Homo sapiens: one gene and its partner. The protein of the gene in region 2 binds, or shares a complex with, the protein of the main gene of each other region. Each region holds a gene or a part of one and is shown on either strand. Other genes may lie near its edges.

Region 1 (3,748 bases), about 72 Mb from region 2:
TATTTACTGAGCTTAAAGTTTGCTTTCATCACCTTAACGTTTAAAAATTGATTTCACACGGCCAGGTGCAGTGACTCACGTCTGTAATCCCAGCACTTTAGGAGGCCGAGGCGGGCAGATTGCTTGAGGCCAGGAGTTCGAGACCAGTCTGGCCCTGGCCAACATGGCGAAACCCCGTCTCAACAAAAAATACAAAAATTAGCCGGGCGTGGTGGCGCATGCCTTTAGTCCCAGCTACTAGGGAAGCTGAGGTGGCAGGACGGCTTGAACCTGGGAGGCGGAGGCTGCAGGGAGCCAAGATCGCCACTGCACTATCCAGGCTGGGCGATAGAAGCAGACCTTGTCCCCACCCTCCCCACTTTCCCCCTAGAAAACTGATTTCACAGATAAATTTGATTAGGGTACCCACTACATTTCACTAGGAATTCTAATGAGGAGAATCCAGGTGATCACATCTAAGTCACACAAAATTAAACATTTTTTAGTACAAATCAAGGTTAAATATTGGCAATTAGTATAAAGTAAATCCCTGTAATCCCCCCCCACCCGTTTTTTAGTTTGTTTTGCTTTCTTTAAAATAAACCCAGTGAGTATCAATCTGTCATCCTAAATTCTGACTGGGATCAGAGGCATCAACTAGTTCTTGTCCCATCTATCTGTGGCTAACTAAAATAAACTAAAAGTCTAATAGTTTAAATAGTAAACTAAGAAGTGTAACTAATTCAAAATATTCTAGTTCACACACAGAAGCAAAAACAATTACACAATATACAAGATATTGATCAAATGAAGTGAAGCTTTGACCCAATCAAAACTTCCTAACTCCACTTGTATCCATGTCGATCTCCTTTTATATCCGTTCAGTTCCACTGTCCTAAGTAGCCAATGTCTGAATAATTTTCAGCATTACCAGTCGAGCCCCTCCAAAAGTGGGTTTGCCATTTGCGAATTTAGCTTTGGCCCTCACTGCAGAGCGTGAAAACCAAAGGAAGAGGATGGTTTGAAGAGCAATTTCTTTTCACGAATAAACAACTAGTCCCATGAGTAAGGGAGTCAATTTGGAGTGCCAGGTCTAAAGGAAGAAGAAACTGTATTGCCTCCTTGTACATTTTGGGAATTTAGGGCCTGGACAAACGATAGCTAGTGAACTGAACGGGCAGGATAGTCAATCAGAGTAGAAGCAGCAGTTACAGGTCTAAAAAGCGTGCCAGCTCTACCCCACAGGCCCCCGAAAACCCTTCTACTCCGCCCAGCCTCCACCTCGCGCTTCTCACCTGCCTGTCGCCCGGTCTCGCTCGGGCTTCGCGAAGGGGCTGCGGATCCTACCCTCGTCACTGGAGTGGCCCGGACCGACGCCTGCACGTGAGGAGCCCGGGGTCCCAGGCCCGCGACTGGAGCAGGGGTGCTGATGCCGGCAGCTGTCCGCGGGTCAGGCCCCGCGGCCCCGGGGCTCAGGAAGTAGAAGGGGTTGTAATAGCCCAGCTGCGGGGGCGGCGGCGCCGCGGCCTGGGGGACTGCAGCGCCGCCCGAAGGGAAGCTCTGCGGGGAGGGCTGGGGGCTGCAGTAGGCTGGGAAGGCGGCCAGGCCGCTGTGCCAGGTGAGGTAGCCGCAGTAGGACTGCCACAGCCACTCGTGCACTTGCCGGGAGTACTCGCGGGCGCTCAGCCGAGCTGGTCTCTCTCGTGGCGCCGCGGCTTCGGGCGCCTCGCAGCCCGCCTGCTCCTGCAGCTCTGCACCGGAGCCGGAGGCCGCCTCCCCGCGCTTCCTGAGCTCGCGCGGCGGCTCCAATTTGTCGGCTGCGGCGGCAGCCGCGAGGCCCGGGGCTGTGGGCCGGCCCGGGGCCTGGGGTTCGGCCTGGGGGTCGTCGCGGGGGCATGGGACGGCGGTGGTAGGAGGGCCTCTCAGGGAAGGGACGGGCTCGTGGTCCCCTCCGCCATCGTCCTGCCCGGGAGGGTGGCCTCGGGCTTCCTCGGGCCCCTCGGCCATCGTCGCCTCAGCAGCACCCTCTGGGATACCTGTCACTGCTCCGTTTCCCTCCCCCAATGGCCCCTCCCCAACAGCCCCGTCACCACCGCAGCAACCGCAGGCGTCAACAATCCCCCGCCGGAAGCGGAAGCCCCGCCCCTCAGGAGCAACGCCCGCCGCCAGGCGGAGCTGGGAAGGGAGGGCGGGGAGGTGCGTCTGCAGTCCCGGGTTCGGGCCCTAGTAGTCGGTGGCTGGTCGGTGACTGGGACCAGACCGTCGCCTCCTCCCTTTTACAGCTTTAAGTCTGTGACCCGAGGCCTCTCTGTATATTCCCGTGGGGTTGGGCCTAGTTGTCCTGGGAGAAACTAGATGGATGAGGAGTATTTCCGAGACAGGTCCCAGGGCCAGCGCAGCCTTTTCTGTTGCAGAACCGCGACTGTTGTTTTGGGATCCAGGCCGGAGGGTTTGTTGCTTGTGTTCATTCCAGTTAACCATTAGTACTCGAGAAGGTGGTACAGAACGCATCTATCCCCTTAGAAGAAAAGAAATTAAAAGCCAAACTAAACTGGGATATATATTAATATAGGAAACTACCACTGAGACATAGGAAAGTGTATTAAAATATAACTAGTGAGGTGCTATGTATAATTCAGAGGAAGGGGAAATTATGCATGGGCCAGACTACTAACAAAAGGCTCCAAAGCCTGGGATACGCTGAGGGCCTTTCCATAACAGAAAATGAAAAGGAACCTAAATTTGAGACTAGATTTGAGGAAAGGCACAGTTGCGCTGGAGTAGAAAGCGTCTGTCTACCGCAGTGGAAAGTAAGTTTTCGTAAATGCAGACTAGCTCCAGGGTGAGGACAGAATCTAGCTTTTAAATCAGTATAATCTCTCTTCTTTTACATTTGAAAATCTCTGCAGCGATATGTTATTGTATCCCCAGCACCATACAAAGGACATACAAGGGCCAAATACTGTGGGAATATTTATTAATGATATTAATGATGATGCTGTCCGGGCCAAAGGAAAACTTCCGCTTCACCTTCTGAAGTTTCGCTGAAAGTCACTGACAGGAGGCAGTTAATAGGAGAAAAGACATAGACATTGATTTGACCATCGTTTTATGTGACACGGGAGCCTTCAGAATGAAGACCCAAAGATAACAAGGGAAATCGTGTATTTGTATGCTTAGGTTCAACAAAGCATGGACAGCCGTATAAAAAAATGACTGGACAAGGCCGGGCGCGGTGGCTCACGCCTGTAATCTCAGCACTTTGGGAGGCTGAGGCGGGCGGATCACAAGGTCAGGAGATCGAGACCATCCTGGCTAACACAGTGAAACCCCGTCTCTACTAAAAATACTAAAAATTAGCCAGGCGTGGTGGCGGGCGCCTGTAGTCCCAGCTACTCAGGAGGCTGAGGCAGGAGAATGGCGTGAACCCGGGAGGCGGAGCTTGCAGTGAGCCGAGATTGCGTCACCGCACTCCAGCCTGGGCGACAGAGCGAGACTCCGTCTCAAAAAAAATGACTGGACAAAAAACACTCTGATGCAAACAGGCAAGAAACCCAGCAAGGCCTATCTGGATTCTCCTTGGCCTGTCTGCAGCATTCATTCCTTCTGGGTATGGAACAGGACCCTCTGGAATGGGGGCTGTGGCCTACAACAGTTAAACAAGGTAGGTCAGATAATTTTTCTTTTCCTTCTTTTTTTTTTTTTGACAGAGTTTTGCTCTTGTCGCCCAGGCTGGAGTGCGATGGTGCGATCTCGGCTCACTGCAACC
Region 2 (3,748 bases):
TGTTGGATGCTGAATAATAAAAGCTGTTTTTAGAAGGTGTTTTACAGCACCTTTTGAAACTGAGTTGCACAAGTGAAATCTAAATAATTAACATGTAAAGTTTTACTGGCCAGCGAAGTGGCTCACGCCTGTAATCCTAGCACTCTGGGAGACTGAGGCAGGAGGATCACTTGAGGCCAGGAGTTCAAGGCCAGCTTGAGCAACTTAGTGAGACACTGTCACCAAAAAAAGAAAAGAAAGAAAATTAGCCAGGAGTGGTGGCATGTGCCTCTAGTCCTACCTACTTGGGAGGCTAAGACAGGAAGATTACTTGAGCCCAGGAGTTCAAGGCCACAGTGAACTATGACTGCATTGCTGCATGCCAGCCTGGGTGACAGTGTGAGACCCTGTCCCCAAGAAAAGAAAAAAAAAGAGGAGAGGAGGGGAGGAGAGGGGGGGAGGGGGGAGGAGAGGGGATGGGGGAGGAGAGAGGGGAGGGGAGGGGGGAAGGGAGGGAAGTGGGGAGGGGAGGGGGGAAGGGATGGGGAGGGAAGAGGGGTGGGGAGGGGAAGGGGGAAGGAGAGGGGGGAAGGAGAGGGGAGGGGGAAGGGGAGGAGGGAAGGAGTGGGGGAGGGGAGGGGAGGGGAGAGGATTTACTAATGTCCTACCCTGTGCCTAGTATGGAGCTAGGCTCAGTTAAGAATCTAAAAGAGGCCAGGCATGGTGACTCATGTCTGTAATCCCAGCACTTGGGAGGCTAAGGTAGGAAGGTCACTTGAGGCCAGGAGTTTGAGACCAGCCTGGGCAACAAAGTGAAACCCTGTCTCTACAAAAAATAAAAATAAAAAAAATTTAGCCAAGCGTGGTATGTGTGACTATAGTCTCAGCTACTCAGGAGGCTGACGTGGGAGGATCATTTGAGTGTGGGACATCAAGGCTGCAGTGAGCTGTGATCATGCTATTGGACTCCAGCCTGGGTGACAGAGTGAGACCCTATCTCAAGTTAAAAAAAAAAAAAGAATCTAAAAGAGAAGACATTCAAGAGGCCAGGACGAAACCTAAGGACTCAGTATCACCTAACTAGATGTTAGTGAGGAAAGACATGGGGAGAAAGGCTCTGAGAGAGGTGTGATTTTCAGAGGAGTGATGAATGAAAGGATAAATAAATACTTATTGAATGAAAGTTGGAGAAGACTTTTCAAAAAAGAAGTGAACCAGAAAGAGTGTAATGTTGAAAATCAGGGCTGATTCTCAGCCAGTGTGGTTAGTATGACCATACCATTGGCTAACTATTGAAATATACCTGTATTTGTTGGTAAAGAGCTGCTGCTAACTACTGTCCTCCACCACCACCAGTCTCCCCATGCACCAGCCCCTCCCTCCCCGAAGACCACTTAGCTCTCCCCATGATCTAGCAACTAAATAAAATGACTCCTGACACAGTAGAGTGTCTCCAGGACCCTGCTCCAACTCTACTGCCAGCATTAGCAGTTCTCTATATCAGCTAATACTTATTAAGCAGCTTCTATATGTCAGGTACTTTATGGTGTGATTACAATTACCAAACACAACATTCATTTTGACTGATGAGAAAACAATTTTAAAGACATTGTGTAACCCACCCATAGTGTAATGGAAAGAGCACCAGTCAGAATCTAGGCCTATTGGCTCTTAAACAAATGTTCTCTCTGTTATACAAAATAGAGGTAAAAGCAGCATTAATTTGGTATTTATTTATTTATTTATTTATTTATTTATGTTTTTTTTTTTTGAGATGGAGTCTCGCTCTGTCGCCCAGGCTGGACTGCGGACTGCAGTGGCGCAATCTCGGCTCACTGCAAGCTCCGCTTCCCGGGTTCACGCCATTCTCCTGCCTCAGCCTCCCGAGTAGCTGGGACTACAGGCGCCCGCCACCGCGCCCGGCTAATTTTTTGTATTTTTAGTAGAGACGGGGTTTCACCTTGTTAGCCAGGATGGTCTCGATCTCCTGACCTCATGATCCACCCGCCTCGGCCTCCCAAAGTGCTGGGATTACAGGCGTGAGCCACCGCGCCCGGCCTAATTTGGTATTTATTGATGAATACCTGTTGTTTCACCATTTGCTACTCCGTGTGGGTAAGATGTTTAACTGAGAACAGGATGAAGGCTGAGGAGAAGCAGTGAGATTTCTCAAACTGGTCTCTGAGATTGGTGTAGTTTCATGTTTCAACAGGGCACTATGTGTGGAAGGTGGACTGCAGCAGGCCAAACTACGGAAAGGATGCCTTGGAGGTTACCAAAGAGAAAAATAGGCACAGCTTAAAGTGATAACAGATACAGGGAATGGTTTTTGTGTTTGTTTTTGCTTTTTTCAAGGTTAGGGGATAATTAAACATAGTTAAAGGAAATGAGAGAAGAAAAGCTTAACAATTAAAGAGGAATTAGATCAATAGTTTTCCTTGGCCAGGTATGATGGTGACACCTGTCATCCTAGCACTTTGGGAGGCTGAGATGGGAGGACTGCCTGAGGCCAGTAGTTCAAGACCAATGAGACCATGTCTCTACCAAAAAACTTTTTAATTAGCTGGGTGCAGTGGCATGTGCCTATAGTCCCAGCTACTCAGGAGGCTGAGGTGGGAGGATAGCTTGAGCCCAGGAGTTTGAGGCTACAGTGAGCTATGATCGTGCTACTGCGCTCCAGCCTGGGCAACAGAGAAAGACCGTGTCTCTTAAAAAAAAAAAAAAGTTTTCCTTCACATGAAGAAAAGATGTGTAAATTTGGAGAGAAAGAGAGAAAATCTGAGATATAAACAGTAATAATAATGCTAACACTTATTGAGTATTCTGTGTCAGGCTCTATTCTAAGAGCTATACAATAAGATCTTGATACTTTTCATCCCACATAAACTCAATGAGGTAGGTATCATTATTCTCATTGTAAAGATGAGAAAACTGAGGAAGAGAGTGTAAGAAAGGTGGGAAGTTAAAGGAGACAATATGATTACAAGGTACAATAACATTAGCTACCCTTTAGTGAGTACTTATGAAGTGCCAGATGTGTATGCCCAGCACTTGGCATATATTAATTCATTGAATCCTAACAACCATGATATGACATTTATGCATTCAGTTGTATCATTTTTACTTCTCAGATGCATCAGCTTCCTAGGAATTATTTTGGAGGAAAAAAATTGTAGTCCCAGGGCCTGGACCCCAAAAGCAAAATTATACTGTTCTATTATTTCTTAATGAAAATGATTTGCTTACTATATTTTGCAGCTACCAGGAAGAGTGAAGCCACAAGCACTCTAAAAATCCAAAATTCTTACCGTTAGGAGAATAATGCTTGGTGGTTTCATGGGATACTCTGGTGGCAGTACTATCCGCCCGTGATAAACTCCTCCATCAAAATCGGAGTCTGGGGGCCCTCTAACCGTGAAGTGCCATTCAAAAAGGTTATCCTGAACAAAAACAATAATCCACAAGGAATTAATAATATTGAAAAGTTTGATCATTTTATCTGAATATTAGAAATATTACCAAGCAAGAAAAATTAAATGCTTTATATTATTGCTAGTATAGTTTCTAATGCATGAGATGTCTCGAGACTATAAGTGATAAATTAAATTTATAAGTAAAAGCTATTTAATCTAGCTTTCATGTTCCATTGAGCTAAAATATTTTATAATAAACACATTAAAAATTTCTGAGTGTTGTTATATATTCATAAGTAACTTACAGGTTTAAATTGGAAATTAATCCTTGAAAGAATAGCAAATTATGATAATTA

What was found. The genes of interacting proteins can lie anywhere in the genome.
Region 1: UBE2J1 (region 2) and FAM8A1 share a complex: the UniProt entries of both Homo sapiens proteins name them as parts of the HRD1 complex.

Annotation. Positions count from the first base shown.
Region 1 is NC_000006.12:17,598,648-17,602,395, reverse strand, and holds the start of FAM8A1 (protein FAM8A1), read right to left. Parts: upstream 2,095-3,748; 5' UTR 1,987-2,094; coding exon 1,275-1,986; intron 1-1,274. UniProt on the Homo sapiens protein: Plays a role in the assembly of the HRD1 complex, a complex involved in the ubiquitin-proteasome-dependent process of ER-associated degradation (ERAD).
Region 2 is NC_000006.12:89,339,037-89,342,784, forward strand, and holds part of UBE2J1 (ubiquitin-conjugating enzyme E2 J1), read right to left. Parts: intron 3,420-3,748; coding exon 3,288-3,419; intron 1-3,287. UniProt on the Homo sapiens protein: Catalyzes the covalent attachment of ubiquitin to other proteins. Functions in the selective degradation of misfolded membrane proteins from the endoplasmic reticulum (ERAD) and is essential for cells to recover from ER stress.